2 separate regions of the Homo sapiens genome follow, and region 1 is reported to be linked to region 2. The links are microRNA targets in miRTarBase. Many come from high-throughput screens and were not tested one by one. Region 2 holds a microRNA gene; the other region holds the end of a gene's coding sequence.
What was found. Region 2 holds the annotated microRNA hsa-miR-3606-3p (AAAAUUUCUUUCACUACUUAG, at 2,166-2,186, shown strand). A microRNA usually pairs through its seed, bases 2 to 8, with sites in the 3' UTR of a target mRNA and lowers its output. Matches are read on the target gene's strand: a 7mer-m8 pairs with bases 2 to 8, a 7mer-A1 pairs with bases 2 to 7 and ends in A, and an 8mer does both.

Region 1 (4,199 bases), not on the chromosome of region 2:
CACTATCTTTCTGCTATATCCAGGAGGATAAGCGACTAGATTTAACCCAGAAAACTACTATCTCTGATTAAGTGTATCAGAATGAAAGCACTGTAGGGTGAAAAGACTGCATACACAAAGAACTTCTACAGGTGGGTTCTGGACACATTAACACAAAAGCAGAAAGTCTTATTCAAGTAAGTTTTTCATAATAGCCACAGGTTTTGTTAACTGGTACATTTTTACATAGATTTGGCTCATAACTTTACACCATCAGTGTCTTATCAATATCTAACATTCTCCCAAGATGATGTCATTAAGGTAGTAAGAGGGCCAAGATAAACTTTAAAGATTTTTGAGATACAAAAAAAAATGGTGGGTGGGAAATAACTTTCATGGATTTAAAGACTATCAGTTTTATTAGGTTTGCCAACCTGTCTTCAGGCCACAGTTAATTTGTCATGTAGAGGAAGTGAGAGCTATAGATTAGTTTTCATGAATGGTATAGAGAGAATGAAATTATTTGATGAATCTGAATCACTGGGACTAGAAACAATTTTCATACCAAAGGTTCACAGTTTCAGGGTTTATGGGTACAAGAGAGGGCTTCGGATTTTTAGTACTTACTGATCATTAGAAAGTATCAAGGTTTTAAAATGTTTTTCTAACATCGATTATGTTTGAATAATATGACACTGAGAGAAGCTGCAAAAAATCATTTGGTAGAAATTAATCAAAAAATTAAAAAAAATAAAATGTTCAGTATTCATCTAGCATTTAGTTCTTATTTTTCCTTTTCATAAAATGCAAGAGAATCAATTTTATTTTCAATTATCTAATGTATTTAGCCCCAAAAGATGAAACATGCACAGACAGCTTTAATATGAATGGCAAGGAAACGACCAATTTTAATGGCTTGGTTTTAGTAGATGACCAGTTTGAAAGATAATTTACAATGCTGAAATGAGAGCTGATCATTTTTCTCAAAACGTTTTTCAGGTTAAAAAAAAATCTTTATTAGCTGTATCTTCCCTTGATGACAGGGTTCAGGGGCAAGACTTAAGCTAGCCAACTCAGACTGCATCACAGAATGCAACCAAATGTTTGCTCAATTAGTAAGTTAACATCATAAAAATAAGTTTTAACTGTGGACGTTTTTAGAGCAGCAAAACTGCCGAATCTTTAAAAAACTGGGAACTGCCACAGCTCTTTTAATGAACACGTGCCCCGGATACGCTACCAAGGAACTAATAAGGTTTTAGGCATCGTTTTGTTTTGTTTTGTTATTACTAATGCCTGCAGGCTTTCAGCGTTAGGTCCCTCTCTGTAACCCACAGCAGGGCCTAGAACATGAGGCGGTTGCGCGTGAGCAGTATTTCTTTTTTTAACTCCAGCAAAAGCCCCGCAAACGATAAACGCTAAAAGCCCGATTGACATCCTCCTTGCCCTTCCATCTCTCCTTTACGAAGACGGTTATAATCCTGGCGGGACCAGGGGTGGAATATTGTGGTTCTGGAGGGACAGAGCGAGTGCGTGAGAACACGGCAGGGGAGGGCAGCAAGACGTGACCACGGAGTAGGAGGGAAGGATGTTGCCTCTTCTAGGGCGGGAAGAGACTGCGAGAGGTGCTGCTATGCATGACCAAGGCTGGCACGCGGGGAAGATGGTGATGGCCGCAGGACAGGGTGAATGCGGGGGATTCCCTGTTAAGGGGCAGCGTTCGTGGCCGCCTCCGGTGAATGATTCGGGAGCAACGAAAAGGGTGAGGCACAGAACCCGGGAATTCCTGACCGAAAGAGAAAAAAGGGCGCCGAGAAACAGGGTTATTATGGGATGGCTAAGGGGGCTCCCTAGGAAAAATTACAGGATCTTCCTCACCCGCCAATTGCTGTACAGTCTCTTCACTCGCCGATAATAAGCGTCTTTGTCCAGAGTCACAGCCATAGCCCCGGACGCCGCTTCTCCTCGGGTTCCGAGAATCACGCGAGGTCCCGGCTCAGCCACCCGCTCTCGGCCCAGGAATCCCGCACTCTCCCAATGACCCGGAAGTATCGACCTCAAAGATGCCCTTTCCGCTTCCGGGTCCCAACAGCGTTAGGTTTTTTTTTTGTTTGTTTGTTTGTTTTGTTTTTTTCCAACCCTCTTTCGGATGGACGGGGGAAAGAGAGAAAGAAAAACGAGGGAAAATCAACAAAATGTGCGATGCAAAGAGTCGATTTTCGCGGGGTTTGTCAACTTCGCCACTGCCGCACGCGAATCGACGTCGTCACGTGACGGTCTGCCTCCGCCCTTATTAACTCTCAGCCCAGCGGCGGTTTCCAGGACCTCAGACTTTTTGCCGAGGCGGCAGTCCCTAGACGAAGCGAAGGAGGCGGCGCCTGCCCCGCCCACAAGAGCTGCCGCGCGCGGGTGTTATAGCTCCACCCCATCTGCAAAGGAAGGGGGAGCGGAAAGAGCGGGATCTAGCGTGGGATAAAAGTGGGACTACTACAGTGTAACTGGGCATGCGCCCCTCCTAGAAATGATGGGAATGCAAAAGCCCTTGACTGCTCCAGGACTCGAGGGATCCTCGGTGCCAGGATGCTGGGTCAAGCGCTCCGCCGGGACAGAGGACTCATACCAGGGAAATGGAGCCCAGCCTCGTGATAAACTACGACCCAAGCTGGGGGAGGAACCTAGTTTTCGAAAGGAAAATAATATGCGCAAGCTTTAACTGAGCAGTGGGATGGTGTAAGTCAGAGGAAACAGATGACTTGAGGGGCTCTACAAACTTTTAGTTCCTTCCCACAACCCCACCCCCTGAGCCCAAGTCGCGGCAGCATCCTTCCAGTCGGCCAGTCCCCTTGCTGCAGTTCATGAAAACTGGCACTATTCTATGGCTTCCCCCAAATAACCGTTACTTCAGTTAATTAGAAACAAAACATAAATGGTTCCTGATGACATTCTTGCTCCCTGTCTCTTCTAAAAACTTGGAGTTTGAATCCAGAAGTTTGCCTACCTACCATTTACCTTAAATAATTCCCTTGCCTTTAGCCAGCTGGACAGTCTACATTTGTATATACCCTTTAGAGGAGTACAGATGACTTGTCTGCTGTAAGGCAATTTAGTATAAACAGTATTGAACTTAAGGAAAGTGGTGCTGAAATTACCCACCATTAACAACTCAAAATCAATACACTGGGTTTGAGCAAACATAGAACAAAGGAAGAGTGGAAAAGGATTAACTTAAATTTATTAATGCCAAGGGGAAAGAAGGTAACAGTTCCTGACCCTCCAGCTGTATCCACAGTTCGGCCAGGAACAGGCTCTGCCAGAGGCTAGGGCCAGCGCTACATAGTCTGTGGTTAATGGAGGTGACTAGGGAGGGGTGAGCACACCAGCTGCTCTAGTCTCCTTTCCTTCCCCAGAAATGAGGAAGTGGTCATGTATTATTTTAGGAGTTCCCCTGCCCACCCAATCCTCTCATAATTGGGAGCAATCAGGTACATTTTTTTTTTTTTTTCCTTTTCACCTCCTGGAGTCCTGGACTTCCCCACATCTCCCCTGCCCCTCCCACGTTTCCATAGTCCAAGGGCCAGAGTAAATGAAAATACAGCAGCCGCCCAAGCAATGGGGCCCATGCTGGGGCTTCAGTCATCAGCATCTTCACTGGAGTCTGAGTTAGCTGGCATCATAGGATCATCAATGAGTGAGAAGTCCCTTTCTGAGCTATCATAGCCCTGAGATAAGTCATCATCATCTTCTTCATCCTCATCGTCATCCTCCTCAGGTTGCAGTGGTGGCAACCGCAAGGTAGTACCAGAGGCGGTAGTCACTGGTGAAGAGGGGTAGCCAGGGGCTCTCAAGCCTGGATGGTGATGGTGGTGATGGTGGGGGTGGGGGTGGTGGTGGTGGTGATGAAGCATGGTGCTGGAGTCTACATGAGGGGATGATGGTGCACCACCCATCACAAATGGCATAAAAGGCAAAGATGCAGAAGTGGCACTGCTGTGACCCAAAGATGACACAGACTGTAGGCCACTACTGCTGTGTTGGAACGTGTTATGCAGAGATAGAGACCCAGTGCTTCCACCCTGCATGAGGGCCATCATCTTAGAAAGGTCTGGTCGCATCCTACGGGCCCGCTTCTTGCTGCTCTCTGGTGCAATAGGCCCTGGCAAAACCCGGTTGAACACCGTTTCAGTGTGATGACCCTAGGAGGAGGGAATAGAAGATAATAA
Region 2 (3,000 bases):
CCATGAAAGCATAGTTTCATGCTTACTCCATGAAAGCATGTGCTTCAATATGGCTATCAGTGAAAATTACTTTGAAAAAATTGTTGCTTAGTGCTCTAAAATGATCCTCCTGTGACACATACTGATTTGATTAGTAGTAAAAATGATAGTTTTTGACTGTTGCACTATTCCAGAATTCATGATTTTTTATGTTTATATAAAAGAATAGAGGATAGACTAGTTTTCTGATGCTTTCAAGAATGTGCCCCAAGCTAATCACCAATCATAAAAATTCAGAGAAGAACCAAATTCAAAATCTCTTCTATTTATGTATCATTTAATAATTTATACGAAGTACATATTATCTCTAATTTATTTAGATAATGATGATTCTTTTGACCACATTTCATATGTTGTGTTATAGTTGGAGGATTCACTTAATCTCTACAAAGCATAACACTCATCGATACATTTATTTTCACACAAACAACTTCAAATATATACGAACTATTTGCATTACTATTAATACATTATCTGTTTTTTGTATACTTAGGGCCCTCCTGGGATTAATGGTAGTCCTGGTGGTAAAGGCGAAATGGTAAGCTGTCCCCACTCCTCAGCCTTATCTCATCCACACATTACTGGCTTCTTTTGCATTTTGCATGACAATAGATTTGTGATATTTAAGTGAGATATTCATAAAAGAACATTCAAGTTCGGCTAATATAGTGTCTTTGGTTTGTTCTTAGGGTCCCGCTGGCATTCCTGGAGCTCCTGGACTGATGGGAGCCCGGGGTCCTCCAGGACCAGCCGGTGCTAATGGTGCTCCTGGACTGCGAGGTGGTGCAGTAAGTTGCCTTGTTTTTTCTCTGTTGACTGAAAGGTATAGTTTAATTCCATCAACAAAAAATTAATAGCAAAATTTTGCTCCTGTTCAGTTGAATTTATATTGACTTCACTCTTGTCTTATAACTTATAACTGAATTATGTGTTACTGGTGATGATTTGTTAGTCGAATCCTCCCTGTGTTTCAACCAAGACTTTGTTATACTTTAGGGTGAGCCTGGTAAGAATGGTGCCAAAGGAGAGCCCGGACCACGTGGTGAACGCGTAAGTTTTACTGCAACAGATCTGGTTATTTCTTGAAAAAATGCAACATAATTAGAAAGTAAACAGGTAAAAACTTTGAACTAAATTCAGTCATAATTTCTTTATTTTACCATCTTTTTTTTTTTTCAGGGTGAGGCTGGTATTCCAGGTGTTCCAGGAGCTAAAGGCGAAGATGGCAAGGATGGATCACCTGGAGAACCTGGTGCAAATGGGCTTCCAGGAGCTGCAGGAGAAAGGGTACGTTTTCCATGGGGCATCTAAAAGAAAAGCAGCATCACTGTCATCTAAATAAAACTACCTTCAGGGTGAGACAGCCAATTTTTCTTAAGTTGAGTGTTCAGTGAAAATATTGTTTAAAGCATTCTATGACATAAAAATATTTGCCACTCAAGAATTATGAAAAAGAATTGAAATCCTTTGGACTGAAATACTTGTCTTTCATTATTTTCAGGGTGCCCCTGGGTTCCGAGGACCTGCTGGACCAAATGGCATCCCAGGAGAAAAGGTAGATAACTTTAGTTTCTATGTTCCTAAATGCTAGCACCACAAATGGGCAGTTCTTGTATACAATTTCTCATTCATGAAAACCTAAATATCTGAAGAATATATATTAGAGTTAAGAAAAATTCCTAATATAATGCATCCTCTGTTCAACAACTTTCCTGGCTTTGTAACTAAAGCCACTTACTTACCCTCTATGAGAATCCTTTACTTATCTGTTAATTGGAAAGCATTTATCTGAGCATCGTTGCAAGAGTACAGTAAACTAAAATGCCTGAAAAGTCTTTGAAAACTCTAAGGTTACATCAAATATGATTTCATAGCATTAAGATATTTGATTTTAGCTGCACATAATTATATTTTTAAGCACAGTGAATACTGTTTTATTAAGCATGTGATGTTCACAAAGTTGCTTTAAAATTTTTTCAATATGGCAATCCAAGCTAAGATAACTGATTTTATGTATAAATGTTTCAGCAACACACGAACCCTTTTTAAAAGTTCAAATGACGTCCTCTCTTTGTAACCAAAATATTGTTGCTATCTAGGTTAGTGAAGGCTATTTTAATTTTTTTAAAATTTCTTTCACTACTTAGGGTCCTGCTGGAGAGCGTGGTGCTCCAGGCCCTGCAGGGCCCAGAGGAGCTGCTGGAGAACCTGGCAGAGATGGCGTCCCTGGAGGTCCAGGAATGAGGGTACAGAGAAACATTTGTTTGAATGACACTTTAATTTAGACAGAAGAAAGGCAAGACAAATGAAGACAGATCAAAAGCAACTTAAATCAATCAGATTACATATTTTGTAAGGCACCAAACAAAACAAAATTCTTTTAAGTAAACTTAAGCCGAGATAGTTCAAGGAGAAGAGAAGATAGAACACTTGCCTTAGATACTTTATAGACAGGAAAAAAGATGTGCAAATCTGAGGCTTCACATGTAAGTGAAAATATCAAAATCATACAAATAGTGTATGTAGTAATTTTTTATTATTTCATTTTAAATCACCTAACAACTGACTTCTTTACTTCAGGGCATGCCCGGAAGTCCAGGAGGACCAGGAAGTGATGGGAAACCAGGGCCTCCCGTATGTACATTTTTAAAATCTCATTTTAAAAGGCCAGTTAAAATGGAATGTATATGTTGGCCTATCCTTGAGTGTGTGTGTGTGTGTGTGTGTATATATATATATGTATATGTATATCTATATATATACACACACACACACACACACACATACTATATATATAGCATGCTTTAATCTTCTCTTTATCAAACCTTTATTAATGTAATTTTTTCTTATTAGGGAAGTCAAGGAGAAAGTGGTCGACCAGGTCCTCCTGGGCCATCTGGTCCCCGAGGTCAGCCTGGTGTCATGGGCTTCCCCGGTCCTAAAGGAAATGATGTGAGTTCC

Region 1: the mRNA of CHD8 is a reported target of hsa-miR-3606-3p. Seed matches in the 3' UTR shown: 7mer-A1 at 3,206-3,212.

The regions. Positions count from the first base shown.
Region 1 is chr14:21,382,005-21,386,203 of GRCh38, forward strand. It overlaps CHD8 (chromodomain helicase DNA binding protein 8), which reads right to left. Exons shown (of 38, transcript NM_001170629.2): 38 at 3,195-4,172. The coding sequence ends at 3,609. It overlaps SUPT16H (SPT16 homolog, facilitates chromatin remodeling subunit), which reads right to left and starts at 2,015. Exons shown (of 26, transcript NM_007192.4): 1 at 1,858-2,015. The coding sequence starts at 1,923. LOC107984643 (a long non-coding RNA gene) reads left to right here and starts at 2,269. Exons shown (of 2, transcript XR_001750627.2): 1 at 2,269-2,709.
Region 2 is chr2:188,993,506-188,996,505 of GRCh38, forward strand. It overlaps MIR3606 (microRNA 3606), which reads left to right and starts at 2,125; the gene lies at 2,125-2,187. It overlaps COL3A1 (collagen type III alpha 1 chain), which reads left to right. Exons shown (of 51, transcript NM_000090.4): 17 at 533-577; 18 at 729-827; 19 at 1,036-1,089; 20 at 1,219-1,326; 21 at 1,541-1,594; 22 at 2,187-2,285; 23 at 2,620-2,673; 24 at 2,893-2,991.